Regions from separate parts of the Homo sapiens genome. Here region 1 is linked to region 2. Evidence: fine-mapped expression QTL. A gene starts in region 2. The other region holds a variant in brackets. All regions are shown on one strand. Distances are from middle to middle.

Region 1 (8,000 bases), 310 kb before region 2:
TTGTAGATAAAGAAACTGAAGCTCAAACATTAAGTAACATCTAAATAATAGTAATGTTAGGATTCAACAAACTTGGACTGGTTTGCTCAATTGCATTCTCCTCCACCTCCATTTCCTCTGCCTCCCACCCATACATATATACACACACACACATTGGTAAAAATCGGCTCACAATGTAGCTCTGCACACTCCTAAATCTGTTATTCTACTTGCTGCTATAAAATGCTTAGTTTTGATAACTTAATTTTTATTAGAAATAAATGATTCTCAAAATGTTTATCCAATTACTATACTCATACAAATCGATCCTTTAGTTGTTTATTGCCATAGATGTCAACTTTGTGGAGCACTGAACAATTTAAATAAATGAATGCAATTTAAATAAATGCCTAAAACACTCTTTGATATAAATGTGAAGACATTTCTTACTTCCAATGCTTATAATTTACAAAAGGAGGAATACAAGTATACAAATTAAAACATAATCAAATGTCCCTTTCACTGAGAAGTCATTTTTTCACTACCACTAACTGTTAGCAAAATTGGTTGTTCCCTCTTCTATGATCCCATTGCATTTATATACTTCAGTTGTCATTGTTTATATATGTCTCCCACCAAACTCATCAATCTCTGAGAAGCAAGATCTTATCATTGCAACTTTAAGGGCCAGCACAGTTACTGGCCTGTAAGAGTTGTTAAAGCGAACTAAATATGATCTCAGAAGGACTCTATTTCTTCTTCTTTCTTTTGAGACATAGTCTCGCTCTGTTACCCAGGCTGGAGTACAGTGGCATGCTCTTGGCTCACTGCAACCTCCGCCTCCTAGGTTCAAGCAATTCTTGTGTCTCAGCCTCCTGAGTGTCTGGGATCACATGTGTGAGCCACCACGCCCAGCTAATTTTTTTTGTATTTTTAGTAGAGACAGGGTTTCACCATGTTGGCCAGGCTGGTCTCAAACTCCTGGTCTCAAGCAATCCACCTGCCTCAGCCTCCCAAACCGCTGGGAGTATAGGCATGAGCCACCATGCCCAGCCTAGGGCTCCGGACTTCTACATTTGAGTCCTGGTGGAGGAAGCTTAACCTAACTTAATAGGTAGACAAGACTGAAAACCTAACTTATGAGCATATGCCTATAATAATAGTTAAGTCTTGGCCAATCTCAGCAGCCATTCTTCAACCACTGATACACTGCTAAATGTTCAAACTGTTTCCAAATAAGGCAAATGCCAACCTGTAACCAATACAGCTGTTTCTGTACCTCGCTTCTTTCTGTACGTCACTTTCCTTTTTTTGTCTATAAATTTGTTCTAACCACGAGGCATTCCTGGAGTCTCTCTGAATCTGCTATGATTCTGGAGGCTGCCAATTTGCGAATCATTTTTTTTTCTTGTTCAATTAAACTCTGTTAAATTTAATTTGTCTGAAGTTTTCTTTTAACAGAGTTGTTCCACAAATGTCAAGTGAATGAATAGATAGATTAAAACAATAAATAAAACACAGTAATAGCCAAAAGTCAACCATGTTAAGGCATTCTTTCTAGTACATACTACTTCAGTCTTCAAAATAAACCTAGCAGTAAGTATTCTTGTAACTACTGACTCTTTAATCTTCACAATAACTCTACGAGTTATTGTTCGACAGTTACGGAGACTGAGATCCATAGACATTAAGTTGCTTGTGGTGACCCAGATGAAGCCAGAGAGGAGGAAGGAAGGGAGAAATGAAGGAAACAAATAACAAAATAAGAAAAAAGTGAAAAAAACTTAAGTAGAAGAAGAGAACTATAAATGCATTTCTAAGAGGGTTGGAGAAGGCAGCACGGGAAGAAGGGCATAGGCAGGGTTTCTCAAAGAAAAGGTCTTGGCTGGGCGCGGTGGCTCACGCCTCCAATCCTGGCACTTTGGGAGGCCGAGGCAGGTGGATAACCTGAGGTCAGGAGTTAGAGACCAGCCTGGCCGACATAGTGAAACCCCGTCTCTACTAATAATACAAAAATTAGCTAGGCACAGTGGCACACGCCTGTAATCCCAGCTATGAGGAGGCTGAGGCAGAAGAATTGCTCGAACCCCGGAGACAGAGGTTGCAGTGAGCCGAGATCGTGCCATTGCACTCCAGCCTGGGTGACAAGAGTGAAACTCCGTCTCAAAACAAAACAAAACAAAACAAAACAAAAAAACAAAAAGGTCTTCAAGGAAGGAGATAATTGTTGTAGGTATTCTAGGTGGAAGGAAGAGTATGATTAAATGACAGAGTGGGAGAGTACCAAGTATATTCGAAAAATAGTAAGATAAGTATTTAGCTAAAGCTGAGACACATATGGTGTAATATTCAATCATTCATTCAACAAATATTTATCAAGTATTTACTCAGAGCCTGTATGGGAAAACAAACCTGGAAGGGAAGTTTCAGACTAAAGAATGAAGGGTTTTGAATGCCAGCATAAAAATCTGTACATAAAGGAGCCATTGAAAATAAGTAAGCAAGGCTGAATGTGATTCATGTTGTACTTCTATTTAGAAATATTAACTTTGGCTGGGCGCGGTGGCTCATGCCTGCAATCCCAGCACTTTGGGAAGCCGAGGTAGGCGGATCACCTGAGGTAGGAAGTTCAAGACCAGCCTGACCAACATGGAGAAGCCCCAGCTCTACTAAAAATATAAAATCAGCTGGGTGTGGTGGCGCATGCCTGTAATCCCAGCTACTCGGGAAGCTGAGGTAGGAGAATCACTTGAACCCAGGAGGCGGAGGTTGCGGTGAGCCAAGATCGTGCCATTGCACTCCAGCCTGGGTAACAAGAGCGAAACTCCATCTCAAAAGTTAGGGGGCCTGGCCCTAATTGTTTGTAACTTTAGTAGAGACAGGTTTCAATACGTTGGCCAGGCTGGTCTCGAACTCCTGACCTCGTGATCCGTCTGCCTTGGCCTCCCAAAGTGCTGGGATTACAGGTGTGAGCCACCGTGTCCAGCCTTCAGATTCATTTCTATTTAAGAGTGGGGTGGGGAGAGGGCTGTGTGCAGTTTTCATTTTATGTATTTATTCATTTTAATTTTTTTTTTTTTAGACAGAGTTTTGCTCTTGTTGCCCAGGCTGGAGTGCAATGGCGCAATCTCTCACTGCAACCTCCGCCTTCCGGGTTCAAGCAATTCTCTTGCCTCAGCCTCACAAGTAGCTGGGATTACAGGCATGCGCCACACACCTGGCTAATTTTGTATTTTCAGTAGAGATGGGGTTTCTCCATGTTGGTCAGGATGGTCTTGAACTCCTGACCTCAGGTGATCCACCCATCTTGGCCTCCCAAAGTGCTGGATTACAGGTGTGAGCCATTGTGCCTGGCTCTTTTTATTTTATATAAAAGCCACTGTGTAATGGTTTTACTTGTAAATTATTTCACATTCTCAATGTGAAAATATTTAATAAGTAGCTTTCTGAATCCTAACACACGCCCAAAGAGCTTTGATTCTAAAATTCCTAGTTTCTCAATTCTGAGTGAATATTTTGTGGCCAATGACAGAAATACAGAAGAGCATTAGTAATCAAGAAAGAAAAGTCTGGGCACAGTGCCTCATGCCTGTAATCCCAGCACTTTGACAGGCCGAGGCAGGTGGATCACAAGGTCAGGAGTTCAAGACCAGCCTGGCCAACTTATGAAACCGCGTCTCTACTAAAACTACAAAAAAAAAAAAAAAAGAAAAAGAAAAAAATTAGCTGGGTATGATGGCACGTGCCTGTAGTCCTAGCTACTCGGGAGGCTGAGGAGGGACAATTGCTTGAACCTGGGAGGTGGAGGTTGCAGTGAGCCAAGACCATGCCATTGCATTCTAGCCTGGGGGTGACAGAGTAAGACTCCGTCAAAGAGAGAGAGAGAGAAAGCACAATAATAAAGTATTAAGCTGGGCACGGTGGCTCATGCCTGTAATCCCAGCACTCTGGGAGGCCGAGGTGGGCGGATCACCTGAGGTCGGGAGTTCGAGACCAGCCTGACTAACATGGAGAAACCCCATGTCTACTAAAAATACAAAATTAGCCGGGCGTGGTGGTGCATGCCTGTAATCCCAGCTACTCGGGAGGCTGAGGCAGGAGAATCGTTTGAATCCGGAAAGCAGAGGCTGCGGTGAGCCGGGATCACACCATTGCACTCCAGCCTGTGCAACAAGAGCGAAACTCTGTCTCAAAAAAAAAAAAAAAAAAAAAGTAATAAAACTGAAAGAGTTGGCCGGGCACAGTGGCTTAGGCTTGTAATCCCAGCACTTTGGGAGGCCGAGGTGAGGATCACTTGAGGCCAAGAGTTCGAGGCCAAAAGTTCAAGACCAGCCTGGCCAACACAGCGAAACCCTGTCTCTACTAAAAATACAAAAATGAGCTGGGCATGGTGGTATACGCCTGTAATCCCAGCTACTTGGGATGCTGAGGCATAAGAATCACTTGAACCTGGGAGGCAGAGGTTGCAGTCAGCTGAGATCTCACCACCGCACTCCACCCTGGGTGACAGAGCAAGACTGTCTCAAAAAAATATATAAATAAAAATAAAAACAAAAAACTGAAAGAGTTTTCTTTGTATAAGCATTATTAAATCCAGGAATTTAAAAAGAACTACATGTATTCATATTGTCTGCATTGTAATAAGGTATCTAAACATAATTCACAGTGTTAAAATTATTTCTCCTATCTAGAAACCAAGAGCTTCCTTGTTAAAGTGTAAAATGAGATTTTGCCTACTTGTAACTCCTTGTTCTCACAGCTGAACTGTCACAGCATGAAAACATTTTCCTACTGGTAAAGCTTTAGATACCTATTTCCCTGATCAAAGAGTACAAAAGGAACGGAGTTACTGACAATTCATACAGTATCCCACACCCTATTCGAGTACAACCACAAGCAAAGAAAATACGTTAACTCTGAAGGGAGATGGGCAACAATGTTGTAAATGAGTGTTGACTTCACTGAGTAAC[C/G]TGAAAATGCCCAAGACTGAAGTCTATTAGGTTCATAAGAGACTCAAGATTATAAAAGAATTGATTACAAGAGGTCTATTTCTTTCTCCTGTTGGGTGAGTCAAAGGTTAATGAGAAGTATACTGAACAAAACATCTCTTGTGTTACTGCAAAGTATTTCTCATGCAGGATAAAAATGTAAGTGAAAAAGTATTTTAATCTAGTTAATTAACTTCTTTTTTAAAAAAATAGCTTCACTGAGGCATAATTTATATGCCATAAAATTCACTCATTTTAAATGTTCAATTATTTTTTAAAACTTTAGAGATGTGCAACCTTTACCACAATCTAATTTTTAGAACATTTTCATCACCCCAAATCCATTAATTTCTTGATCTATGGTATTTTCATAAATTCACAGAATCCAATGATATCTAAGGCTACTGTATATTTAAAGCCACACAAATTTCTTCAACTGAGCAATAAAAGTACAAAATGACCTCACTTTTAATGACCTTTATAACCAATCCTCTACTCTGGCACTAGGAAGCAAATGTTCAGGTGCTTTCTCTGAAAGTTAAACCATTCTAAGTATTAAGTTATGGCACACTGTCTTGGAAAGAAATTAATTATATTTTTGTTGGTAACACATTTCAGGCTGTTTACACAGCTGACATTTCTCAGCTGTACCCAATTCATGCCCTAAGCTGTGAGGACTATTTTGTTTTGTAGCAGATGCCTCCACTTGAATGATTTCAGTAAGTATAAAAACACCACCGCCTGCAACAAATATAGACTACAAGTACCAGTTTTATGAGTTTTTATACTCCTAATGAAAAAGGTTTTACGACATATTATTTGGCCAGGATCTCCTCAGAATACTAGTTATAAGCCATTTTTGGCTAAATTCAAGCACTGGAGCTAGTGAATCTGCTGTGGCATCAGTTAAAAGCAGCCTGGCCCTAAACATCTTTGTTGTATCAAATCATGCAAGCTCAAGGCAACACCCTGCCAATGCCGCAACATTTGCTCTGGGGAGGTGTGGGCAGGCACCACTTCACAGGTTCTGGGACAAGGTGCAAATGGCAATAATGAGGCTAAAAGAATCAAGCCTCTTAATAGGGATTCCCTCTTGTGTTTGCTGTGACTTAAGAGCACCAAGTAGTATTACAGTCTTGGAAACAAACAGTTTTAGCTGCTTTCCATATTTTCCTATAGTAATTAGACTGCATGACAACTCTTTGGCAAAAAATTAAATGTTATAAAAACCATTAAAACATGGGTCTCATAAAAGACCATGCCAACTCAATTCAATGAATTAGCACCTAAAATGTATAAGGCACTATTTTACAGGCAGAAGAATTGATCATATTTCATCGACTTTGCCTATCATTCTTGGAACTTGTACCTGATAAGCCAATTTCAGTCTGGTTTCTACAAGGGTGGGGTGCAAAAGCAGTTGGCTTTTCCAACCCTGTGAAGCCCCACATTTCCAGAGTTTCTCTATTATCTTATGTCCCTGCTCTTAAACAAGACAACTATTTTTGCTTTAAACTTTTTATTATGAAAATTTTCAAATATATACAAAAGTTGAGAGAACAGTATAATAAACCCAATATATGTATCACCTAGATTCAACAATGATTGATAGATGCCTAATCTAAATTAGCTCTATCCTCACTCACTCTGCCACACATAGGTTATTCTGAAGCAAGTCTCAGACATCACTTCATTTCTTTAAACCAGCCAATTCTTGCCTGTAATTGTAATCTGTAATTACAATAACTTTTTTTGCAGTTATCTTAATTATAATGTCGACTCATTTACTGAGTGTCTACTATGAGCCAGGTACTGTATTTATATTATCACTTATCTTCATAATAGTTCTGCAAATTAGTGACAAAATTAAAGCTCAGAGAATTTAATGATATGCTCAGGTCTTAATTATCTTCTTCTATTAATATTACTATTTCTTGTAACAAGTTCTTAGACAATACTGAGAACATTTCTGTTTTCTTCATGCCTCCTCAGGTAAACAGTAGACCATCATGTATGAACATTATTCTTTTATTTTTGTAAAAATAAAGGTAGCACATTTTCTATCAAATTTCTCACTCAAGCAAGAAAAACAACAAAAAAAAAACCACAAGAAAACCACAAACACATCCCTATCCTTAGCCATAGATGACCAGCCAATAATTCTAATTATATACTATAACATCAATGCTAAAATCAGTTTTTCAGAAACAAATTTAAGCACCTAAACCTAAAGATTTTTTTTTCTGGAAGTGTTTATTAAAAATAAAGGGGCTTTTGTTTTTGTTTTTCAGATGGAGTTTTGCTCTTATTGCCCAGTGGAGTGCAATGGCACAATCTTGGCTCACTGCAACCTCCCCCTCCCAGGTTCAAGTGATCCTCCTGCTTTAGCCCCCCAAGTAGCTGGGATTAAAGTCACAAGCCACCACGCCCGGCTAATTTTGTATTTTTGGTAGAGACAGGGTTTCACCATGTTGGCCAGGCTGGTTTCAAACTCCTGACCTCGGCCAGGCACGGTGGCTCATGCCTGTAATCTCAGCACTTTGGGAGGCCGAGGCAGGCTGGTCACCTTAGGTCAGGAGTTCAAGACCAGCCTGGCCTACTTGGTGAAACTTCGTCCTTATTAAACATACAAAAATTACCCGGGTGTGGCGGCAGGCGCCTATAATCCCAGCTACTTGGGAGGCTGAGGCAGGAGAATCAATCGCTTGAACCCAGGAGGTGGAGGTTGCAATGAGCCAAGATTGTGTCATTGTACTCCAGACTGGGCGATAGAGCAAGATTCCAAGTCAAAAATAAATAAATAAACAAACTCCTGACCTCAGGTAATCCACCGGCTTCGGCCTCCCAAAGTGCTGGGATTACAGGTGTGAGTCACCGTGCCTGACCAAAAATAAAGGTTTTGCTATTTTCTGATTATTAAAGTTTCTGATTTTTAAAATTTCATAATCCACAAAGCATGTTCCAAAGGCATACTGTTTACATTGTAATTAGATTCAAGTAGCATCTACATAAATTGTCTTAAAACTTTTCTGT
Region 2 (10,500 bases):
CTCATGCCTGTAATCCCAGCACTTTGGGAGGCCAAGGCAGGTGGATCACCTGAGGTCGGGGGTTCGAGACCAGCCTAACCAACATGGAGAAACCCCATCTCTACTAAAAATACAAAATTAGCTGGGCATGGTGGTACATGCCTGTAATCCCAGCTACTCAGTAGGCTGAGGCAGGAGAATCACTTGAACCCGAGAGGCGGAGGTTGCAGTGAGGCGAGATCATGCCATTGCACTCCAGCCTGGGCAACAAGAGTGAAACTCCATCTCAGAAAAAATAAATAAGTAAATAAATAAATTACCTGGTTTTCTTATAACTGAATAAATGCTTACTTTTAAGTCAATCCTATAAAAATTGAGATAATATAAAAAACAGGAAGAATCATCACTTTTTACTAAGACGATCATTTGTAAGAGAACTCCAGGTTCCTAAACACACAAATGGCTAATGTGTTTAAGGTGTGTAGTTTTCCAAATAATTTTTTCTTCTATCAATAACATTCTTTTACCTATTTGACAATATAAAATTAACATTATTAGGCAAACAATTGTTCACTGCAGATGCCATTCTATTTTTCCCATTTTTAAACAATTGTGTATAGCATTACCATTGGTCTGAAGAGAAAAACTTATTCCCATCTTATTAATGGGATCGAAATTTTCATTTTCTTTTTTTTTTTTTTTTTTTTTTGAGACAGAGTCTCGCTCTGTCGCCCAGGCTAGAGTACAGTGGCGCAATCTCAGCTCGCTGCAAGCTCCGCCTCCCAGGTTCACGCCATTCTCCTGCCTCAGCCTCCCGAGTAGCTGGGACTACAGGCGCCCGCCACCTCGACCGGCTAATTTTTTGTATTTTTTTAGTAGAGACCGGGTTTCGCCATGTTCACCAGGATGGTCTTGATCTCCTGACCTCGTGATCCGCCCCCTCAGCCTCCCAAAGTACTGGGATTACAGGCCTGAGCCACCATGCCCGGCCGAAATTTTCATTTTCATTTCCAAACCAAAATCCCTGGAAAATCTTGCTTTGCCTGAGTACAAGAAGCCTAAATTTCCTGTCCTTTAGCCAATATAAGGTTAACAGTTAAGCATAATAATTGTCACACACAAAAAATAGAAAGCAGATGCAAGTTATTAGAGATAAAAAGGTAAAATTAAAACAAAGTTATAATTACTTTATAAAGTTTTTAATGAGGGAAATCAGAAGACAATTTTGTAACACGGTAAAACTACACCTTGAAATATAGAGTCCTTTTTCAAACAGTGCATTCCACATTAGATAAAAAATGGAACTGGAGAACAAAAACAAAACAAAAAGACGATGATGAAAAACTTAGGCAGGGCTGGGTGTTGGAGCTTACACCTGTATTCCCAACACTTTCGGAGCCTGAGGTGGGTAGATCACTTGAGCCCAGGAGTTCAAGACCAGCCTGGGCAACATGGCAAGGCCCATCTCTAAAAAATTTAATTAATTAATTAATTGAAAAATTTTTTAAAATGTAGGCAGGCAAAAAGCCTCAGGCCAATCCTAAACCTACAAAACATCAAAATCTTATGGTCAACTTTTATTATAAGGACACTCCTTTATTAGTTTGGAGGTTATGGTTTAATCAAACTGTAGATATATGCATATTCCTAATACCTGTATATCAGATTTCACTGGGTAACCAAAACAGCAAACTCTGAAAATGGTTATCTGAACGTTAATTTGTAAAAATAAGGGCCGGGAGCAGTGTGGCTCACGCCTGTAATCCCAGCACTTTGGGAGGCCGAGGAGGGTGGATCACGAGGTCAGGAGATCAAGACCATCCTGACTAACACGGCGAAACCCTGTCTCTACTAAAAATACAAAAATATTAGCCAGGCGTGGTGGCCGGCGCCTGTAGTCCCAGCTACTCGGGAGGCTGAGGCAGGAGAATGGCGTGAACCTGGGAGGCGGAGCTTGCAATGAGCCGAGATCGCGCCACTGCACTCCAGCCTGGGCGACAGAGCGAGACTCCGTCTCAAAAAAAAAAAAAAATTAATTAATTTTAAAAAAAATAAGGAACTTAATAGAACAGAGAGAGAGAAAAGCCCAACAAAATTTCAGCAAGGAAAAATACTGCCTACTAAGCTAGTGTTAGAACCTGTGCAATGTGAGTATTAAAAAAGAGGGAAAAGTCTGCCTATACTTGACAGTAGCTTCTAAGTTGATGCCAAAATGGCCAAAAATATCTCACTAAAATAATTCCTTCACCAAACATCAAAAGGCAAAGGTAGCACTCACAGGATATTAGTTCTAGCTCCAAGTCTTTCACAATGCATACAGTTCTACTTTCAAAGGGCCTTCCTAAGATACTTACATGTCAGTGGCACTACGACTGGGTTTATTAAGAGAACAGCCTTTACTTATCCTTTAAAGTATTCCTGGAGAAAGGACACCAACCAAGCAATTCAAGTCTGTAGGGGAGGGGAATCCGCAAATATGAATAGGTAATTTATTAAGCTTGTGAATTCATTGCAGAGATACTCTGGAATATATAGTCTTATCTGTCTCCTTGTTATCTTCTTACCCTCCAAAGATTCCAATTAGGCAAAGTCTCAAATGTTTACTCCTCTTTGAAAAGGACCTCAGTACCCCATTGTCATTGCCCTCGCCATCTCATCATTCTGCTTTTTTACTCTTCCCTTAATACAATATAAATACACCACGCCCATAACACCACACGCTCCACGCTCACACTCCATACATCTCTCCCCACAGAACCACCCAAAACATCCCATACTTAATGGTCCAACACCAATTAAAACAAAAACTCTACACGTCCCCCCATATAATACAGGAAACACTACACATTCCACACACATTGTAACCCAAGTCATTAATACCTCCAATCCCATTCAACCCGTACTTAACACATTCTACACACTCATGATAGCATATAAATTATACGCTTCTCCATAGCTCGCCACACACACACACACACGCCACGCACCGTATAAAAGCCTAAATGACACACCACTGCAGCGTTCAAACGCTGGGAAGAAGACTCCCTTGTGGCACCGGAAACCCACGAGGTTGGAAGTGGGAGGGGAAGAGGGCCAGATACTTCACCTGAAAATCCGCCAGGATCATCTCCCGGTCCATGTTGGACGCCATGGCGGCCGCCGAGTTCCGCGGCTCCGGGAGCGAAGCGCGCACCTGGGAGGCAGACGGCACCTCCTGCGACCGTCGCCGCCACCGCCGCCGCCGCCGCCGGGCGCCGAGGGGCTGGCGGGCGAGCCGGCGGGCGGGTCGGCGGGCCAGCGGGCGGGGCAGCGCGGGAAGCGCTAGGCGCTCATGCACTCGGTAACCTTCAGGCGCCCCGGCCGCCCGCCTGCAACCTGCGGAGCCCGCGTCGCAGCAGCCCGGACAGGAAGATTGGTCTGGATGTGGGTCCGGTCTTACAGTCGCGGGCCAGGATGAGGGCAGGTTGCGACAGCGCGCACCCGGATACCTTCAGCGGCGTTAAGCCCGGCGGGGGCGGGGAAACCGAGCGAGCGAGCGGGCGGGCGAACGCCGCGGCCGCCTCCGCCTCCTCCGCTTCCTCCCTGGCCGCCGCCTCCGCCCCTGGTTGGCCAGCGCCACGGCTGTCGCACATTTTGCCTGTCATCGAGGTCGCAAAGCGCCGCTTTGCGGCTCCACGTGACCACCCTCCTGTCAAGCGCTGAGCGCGCGACTACCCGGCCAGGATCTCTGCGCTGGCGGCAGAGACTGCAACCTGCAGCTGCGGAAGCTTCAAGTCTCGCAACAGGTTATTCCAGTTTGGATTTAAGCAAAGGCCTCAGGATAGCGCCTCCCCCTAGCTGAGGCGGGGACCAGATTGTGCACCTCACGTGGTTAGTCACACAAATACACACCACCCTCACAAACCAACTAAACACACTGTTACAACTCGTCTAACAAACAGCATTTCAGAAATATATGTTTTTCTCTACAATGTTTCAGCAAAATACAGCTTCATATAGTCTCTCACGCTCAACCTGTCAAAACCGAATCCACACTGTCACACCCAGTCCCAAGCTCCCTGACGTCTGCATCCTCAGACTCCGTAACACAGAAGTAACCAGACTGCCATGGTAGACATGGGAGAGACGAGGAAGCTGAGAAAGGTAAAAATCTCGTTCCAGAGAAGAGGAGGAGCATTTTTTTTAATTGATAAGGTAGTTATGAGAAATAACAACCTCGAGTTAATAGGGTTGCTCCAAAGGGGGAAAAAAGGGAAAACCTTTCTACTGCTGCAGTTATATTTGTTTTTTTAAGCTGAGACATCTTACAAATGGGATAAAACTTGAATCCAGCTTTGAATATAGTCAGTCTATTTTTATTTATTTATTTATTTATTTATTTATTTATTATTTTGAGACGGAGTCTCGCACTGTGGCCCGGGCTGGAGTGCAGTGGCGCGATCTCGGCTCGCTGCGACCTCCGCTTTCTGGGTTCAAGCGATTCTCCTGCCTCAGCCTCCATAGTAGCTGGGATTACAGGCTCCCGCCACCAAGCCCGGCTAAGTTTTTTTTGTATTTTTAGTAGAGACGGGGTTTCACTATGTTGGGCAAGCTGATCTCGAACTCCTGTCCTCGTGATCCGCCCTCCTCGGCCTCCCAAAGTGTTGGGATTACAGGCGTGAGCCACTGCACCCGGCCTATTCATTTTCATAAGAAATTATTTTGGAATATTCACCAAATATTGAAAGTTTCAACCCATGGTCAGAAATTGACAACCTCTGTAACTAAAACAGCCAAAGACTATGTACAATGAAGTGTGACAGTTTGTAATTGTCGTCCAGGTTAGAGAAAGTGTGACAGTGGAAGTTGTTCATCCTTGACTTGGGAAAATATCAGCTTCTGGATTGTCATGGGGCATTTACTTGCTTTGGAAAGTATGTAAAAGCTTGAAAATGTGAAGTAAGATTGCTGATTTTATCCTGTAGAGCTAAAATAACTAGTGAAATCATCATGTAGCATGAAGGCCTAGGCTTCCCTTAAGAACTTTTTAAACTTGTATCATTTATTTACTTTTTTAGAGACAGGGCCTCACTATGTTGCCCAGGCTGGCTTCCAACTCCTGTGCTCAAGCCATCCTCCCACCTCAGCCTCCTGAGAGTGGGGATTACAGGTGTGAGCCATACCACCACACCCAGCAAGGCCTAGGCTCCATAAACTGGGAATATATTCATGAGAAATCAGAAATATGACCTAATTGTTCAGTTTCACTGAATATAAAGAAGTGCACTGTATTATGATCTGAGTTTATTCTGTGTGTTTCCTTAAATGAAAATAGGCTGGCCTACAGTTCTTAAGTACTAATCTGTGTTTAGACCAGAATTAGCTAGATAATAGAACCCTCCACAGTCACATGAATCAAAATGTCTTGCTTAATTTTCAGCCGTAAGAAAATAATTCCATGGCCAGGGCAGTGGCTTATGCCTATAATCCCAACACTTTGGGAGGCCGAGGCAGGCAGATCACTTGAGGTCAGGAGTTCAAGACCAGCCTGGCCAACATAGTGAAATCCCATCTCTGCTAAAAATAATACAAAAATTAGCTGGGCATGGTGGCATATGCCTGTAGTCCCAGCTACTAGGGAGGCTGAGGGAGGAGAATCACCTGAACCTGGGAGGTGGAGGTTGCAGTGTGAACCAAGATCACACTACTGCACCCCAGCCTGGGTGACAGAGTAAAACTGTTTCAAAATAAATAAATAAATATTTTTTTAAAAAGAAAGTAATTCCAAAAGTCAGCACAAATGTGAATCATGAGGCAAAACACAGCACCAATAATATAAATGTGGCAATTCAGTTGCCCCATTCATATAGGCCACCCTCAGTATAAGGCAGGTGAATAATTGTTTCTAGTTATATGGCCAAGGATTAATGCAGTCCTAAAAAGTTGAGAGTTTTTCTCTGTAATGATGCGTGTGTACCTCAGAACCCATTCAAATCCCATGTTGCTCCCTTTTTCTTTCCTTTCTCTCCATCTGGAAATTAAAACAATGTGGTATGTAGAACAATGGGATGAACACACTAGACATTCAGGCATATATTAGTACTGCTTTTCCAAATAATTAGCTGAGGGAACTTGGATGAGTCATTTAATCTCTCTGACTTCAGCTACTCACAGGACTATTTCCTCTGATAAATGAAAAAACAATTATGAAAATGCATGGAAAATATAAAATATTGGTATCACACTAACATAAATTTAATAGTCAATAATTGTGGTTTGAGTTCTAACTCTGCTCTTTAACAAAGGCTCTCTGGTTCTATTTCTTTATCTCTAAAATTGGGCTAAAAAGCTTGTGATTTTGAATGTTGAATGATCAAATGCTTGTGAAAATTCCTCATAAACCTTAAAACTCTCCAAACATATTAGTTATTACTCTGTATACCAATTCCTAAATGCTTTTCTCAGGACCACCCCTTTCATAAAATTTAAGCCAGTAAGGATCTTTCTCCTTTCTAATTACTGCTTTTACTATCTTTACAACACAACTTAGTGCTCCAGTAAATTTTGTAATTTTTTTCTCTAATTGTTTTCATATATGTATGTTTAATCTCCCCCCAAAGGTTGAAAGTTTCTTGAGATTATAAACCGCTTTATGCCATGTGTTTTTATATTCACCATAGTGCAAACATAGCAAAGTCTTGTGAACATAACAGATGGCAAATGCTTTTGAATTTATTAATTTTTATTGGGAGTCTACTATGTACAGATACATTACAAACTTTATCTCATTTAATATTTACAACTACTACTTTACAGAATATAAAGCTGCTCTGGCAAGTTAAGAATTTGCTCAAAGTCATGCTACAGAGTGACAGACCTAGGATTCAAGACTAGGTCAAATTAGTGCTCCTTCCACTTACCATGTTGCCTCTGTACAATTTCCCTTCCATGCTGCTTAGTTTATACCATTCCCAAAGACACTGTTTCTTCCCTATGGCCTAACTCTTCATGGTTGGATACCTAGCATCCAGAGTGGTTATCTACTACAGATAAGAGAAGGGAAGAAAAATAAATACTGAATTAGGAGAAAAAAAATCATTTTTCATTTCTCCAGAATTCCATCCTTAAGAGAAACAATTTCAGTTAAGTGTCATAAACCAAAAGAAGGAAATGTAAAGAAATTTGGTCCATGCACGAGCAAAGAAAAGTAATTTTAATTTATCTATTCTCATAGTTGGCCCACAGTAGTTCATGGAGCTCAGCCTAAGTTAAATACAGATCTTTTTCTAGAATCTCCATGTTCTTTTAAAAGAAACTTTTATATCATCTTTATTTCCAATATAAATAATAAATATTATTTATATTTTACTAAATTTTTATTTGAAATTATTTTAGAATACTTCCAAAGACAGTACAGAATGTTCCTATATGCTTTTAGCCCATTTTTCTCTAATGTTACCATCTTATTTAACATGGTACATCTATCAAAACTAGGAAATTAACACTGCTAAATACTACTAGTTAAATTCTGGAGGCTCTATTTGGATTTTTACACTAATGTCCTTTTCTTGTTCCATGGTCCAATAATACCACATTACATTTAGTTGTCATGTCTCAGTAGCCTCTTCCAATCTGTGACAGTTTCTCAGTGGACACTTCTGAAGAGTCAGGAACTTTATAAAATCTCCCTCAATCTGGGATTACCTAATGTATTCTCAGAATTACACTGAGATGTGTATCACCGCAGAGGTGATATGTCCTTGTTACATCATATCAAGGCCATGTGTTATCAACTTGAGTTATTACTGGTAGTGATAACCTTGATTCTTTGGTTAAGATAACCAATTTCTTAAATAATACTTCTTGCTCATAATGTAATTCATGAGAAAACTAATGCTACTGCACATATGTATTTCATCTAGTGATTTAGTGTTGTTTAGGATACTAGTGGCGGACCCTGGACTAATGGAAAAAGTATAAGGTTTGGAGCCCCAAGAACTGAATTCAAATCCTATGTCTAGTATTCACTGACTTTAAATCACAATTTCTGCCAGCCTCAATTCCCTCACCTGAAATACGGGGATTATTATCACAGTCACTTCACAGAATTGTTGTAAAGATTAATATATGCATTGGCTGTGTGTGGTGGCTCACACCTGTAATCCCAGCACTTTGGGAGGCCAAGGTGGGCGGATCATGAGGTCAGGAGTTCGAGACCAGCCTGACCAACATGGTGAAACCCTGTCTCTACTAAAGATACAAAAATTAGCCGGGCGTGGTGGTGCGCACCTGTAATCCCAGGTACTCGGGGGCTGAGGCAGAAGAATTGCTTGAACCTAGGAGGCAGAGATTGGAGTGAGCTGAGATCGCGCCACTGCACTCTGCCTGGGCGACAAAGCGAGATTCAGTCTCAAAAATATAGATAGATAGATAGATAGATAGATAGATAGATAGATAGATATGCATCATATTTTATAACCATGAAACACTATACAAATATTAATTGTTGCTATTATTTTTCAGCTTTTGGGTTGCTTACTGGGCTTTTTTTCCTTCTTACTTTAACGAAGAACTTTCAGGCCGGGTGCGGTGGCTCACACCTGTAATCCTAGCACTGTGGGAGGCTGAGTCGGGCAGATCATGAGGTCAGGAGATGGAGACCATCCTGGCCAACGTGGTGAAACCCCATCTCTACTAAAAATACAAAAATTAGCTGGGTGTGGTAGTGGGCGCCTGTAATCCCAGCTACTCAGGAGGCTGAGGCAGGAGAATGGCTTGAATTTGGAGGTGGAGGTTGCAGTGAGCCGGGATCGCGCCACTGCACTCCAGCCTGATGACAGAGAGAGACTCTGTCTCAAAAAAAAAAGAACTTTCAGCCTGGCCAATATAGTAAGACCCCATCTCCACAAAATTAGAAAAATTATCCAGGCATGGTGGAGCATGCCTGTGGTCCCAGCGACTCCAGAGGCTGAGGTAGGAGGGTCACTTGGACCTGGGAAGTCAAGGCTTCAGTGAGCCATGATCATGACCAAGCCACTGCACTCTAGCCTGGGCAACAGAGTGAGAACCTGTCTCAAAAATAAAATAAAATAAAAATAATAAAAAATTTTCATAAATAAGTACCTATATGAAAAAAACCACTGAATCTCAGAAATAAAATGCTGAAGCTACAATTATAAAGTCACATAAAAGGCTGCCTGGGGGTGCCCAGTCTGTTTTCCACCTCTGTTGATCTATAAATACAACAAAAAGGAAAACTTTGAGACCAGTTAAATAAATGGTAAATACCACATACACATTTCCAAAAGTTAATCATTCAGAAACTGTACCTACTTGAGTCAATGAGGGAAAAGCACAGAATAATTTGACTGAATCACATTTCTATTCTATGTCAATGAGGGAAAAGCACAGAATAATTTGACTGAATCACATTTCTATTCTATGTCTCTTTTTTTTTTTTTTTTTGAGACTGCTGGGCCGCCACTGCCTCCCAGGTTCAAGCAATCCTCCTGCCTCAGCCTCCTGAGCAGCTGGGATTACAGGCGCCAGCCACCACGCCCAGCTAATTTTTTTTTGTATTTTTAGTGGAGTTGGGGTTTAACCATGTTGGCCAGGCTGGTCTCGAACTCCTGACCTCAGGTGATCTGCCCACCTCAGCCTCCCAAAATGCTGGGATTATAGGCGTGAGCCACTGCGCCCGGCCACTTCTATGTCTCCTTAAATGATTATGAACTGCTGGAGCAAAAGGTTTCCATGACTGTTAATATTTAATATCTAACTATAAAGGCTATATTTCAGTATTTGATGTACTTATCATTTTGATGTTAAAAAGGAAAGCACCACTCTCAATATAGTAGAAACTTAACTATGAATTTTTCTTGTAAGCCATGTTAGAATATAAGCTTATTGAGGGTAGAGATACCCTTGAATCTGCTGTAGTGAACTAGCCCTCAATAAATACTAGATTTTCATTGGAGTTACTGTGTAATACTTATGTATGCCTTCTGAACTAAGACCCTAAGCTCTGCACTGCCAATTCTGGTTTACCCAACAGGCAGATGAAGCATATGCTTCAGGGCACCAGCAAAACCAGAATGTTAAAAAAAAAAAAAAAACCTTTGCCAAATAATTTAATATCTCAGCAAAACCACTGAAGTAGCCATCATGGGAAAAAAATCAGAACTTTGTTGGACTTTTTTACTGTTATTTTGGGGTTCTGTTATTTTTCTTTTTATTTCTATATAAGGAAGAGGTGGTAGAACATCAAAATCTTTTCAGTGCTTAGGGCCTCCAAAAATCTTAATACAACTCTGTGTACATCTTAAATTATCATAAGTTTTCCTTAGTTGTTCAGCAATAAGCATTTTATTTCATGAAAATTATAGTACGTTTACCCGTACTTTATGTAATCATACAATTTAAGATTCTTCCTCTTTACAATTTATCTCTAAGCAAGAAACCATAATAAATGCTAGAAGGCAATCCTCATAAATTGGACTAATACCAGTTCTCTTTTATCAGCCAACAGTGCTAATATGTCCT

Evidence for each region. PIP is the estimated chance that this variant, and not a neighbour inherited with it, causes the effect.
Region 1: its variant is the best candidate, but not a certain one, in a credible set for the expression of FAF1 in blood mononuclear cells (TOPMed, PIP 0.61).

Annotation. Positions count from the first base shown.
Region 1 is chr1:50,646,115-50,654,114 of GRCh38, forward strand. All of the region lies in intron 8 of FAF1 (Fas associated factor 1), which reads right to left. Among named protein-coding and RNA genes, the nearest start is that of FAF1-AS1, 210 kb to the left of the region's middle. The variant C/G (reference allele first, on the strand shown) is at 4,950.
Region 2 is chr1:50,956,682-50,967,181 of GRCh38, forward strand. It overlaps FAF1 (Fas associated factor 1), which reads right to left and starts at 3,586. Exons shown (of 19, transcript NM_007051.3): 1 at 3,086-3,586. The coding sequence starts at 3,130. It also overlaps a transcript of CDKN2C not described here. RefSeq lists an enhancer at 2,873-2,922 and silencers at 3,233-3,282, 3,393-3,552.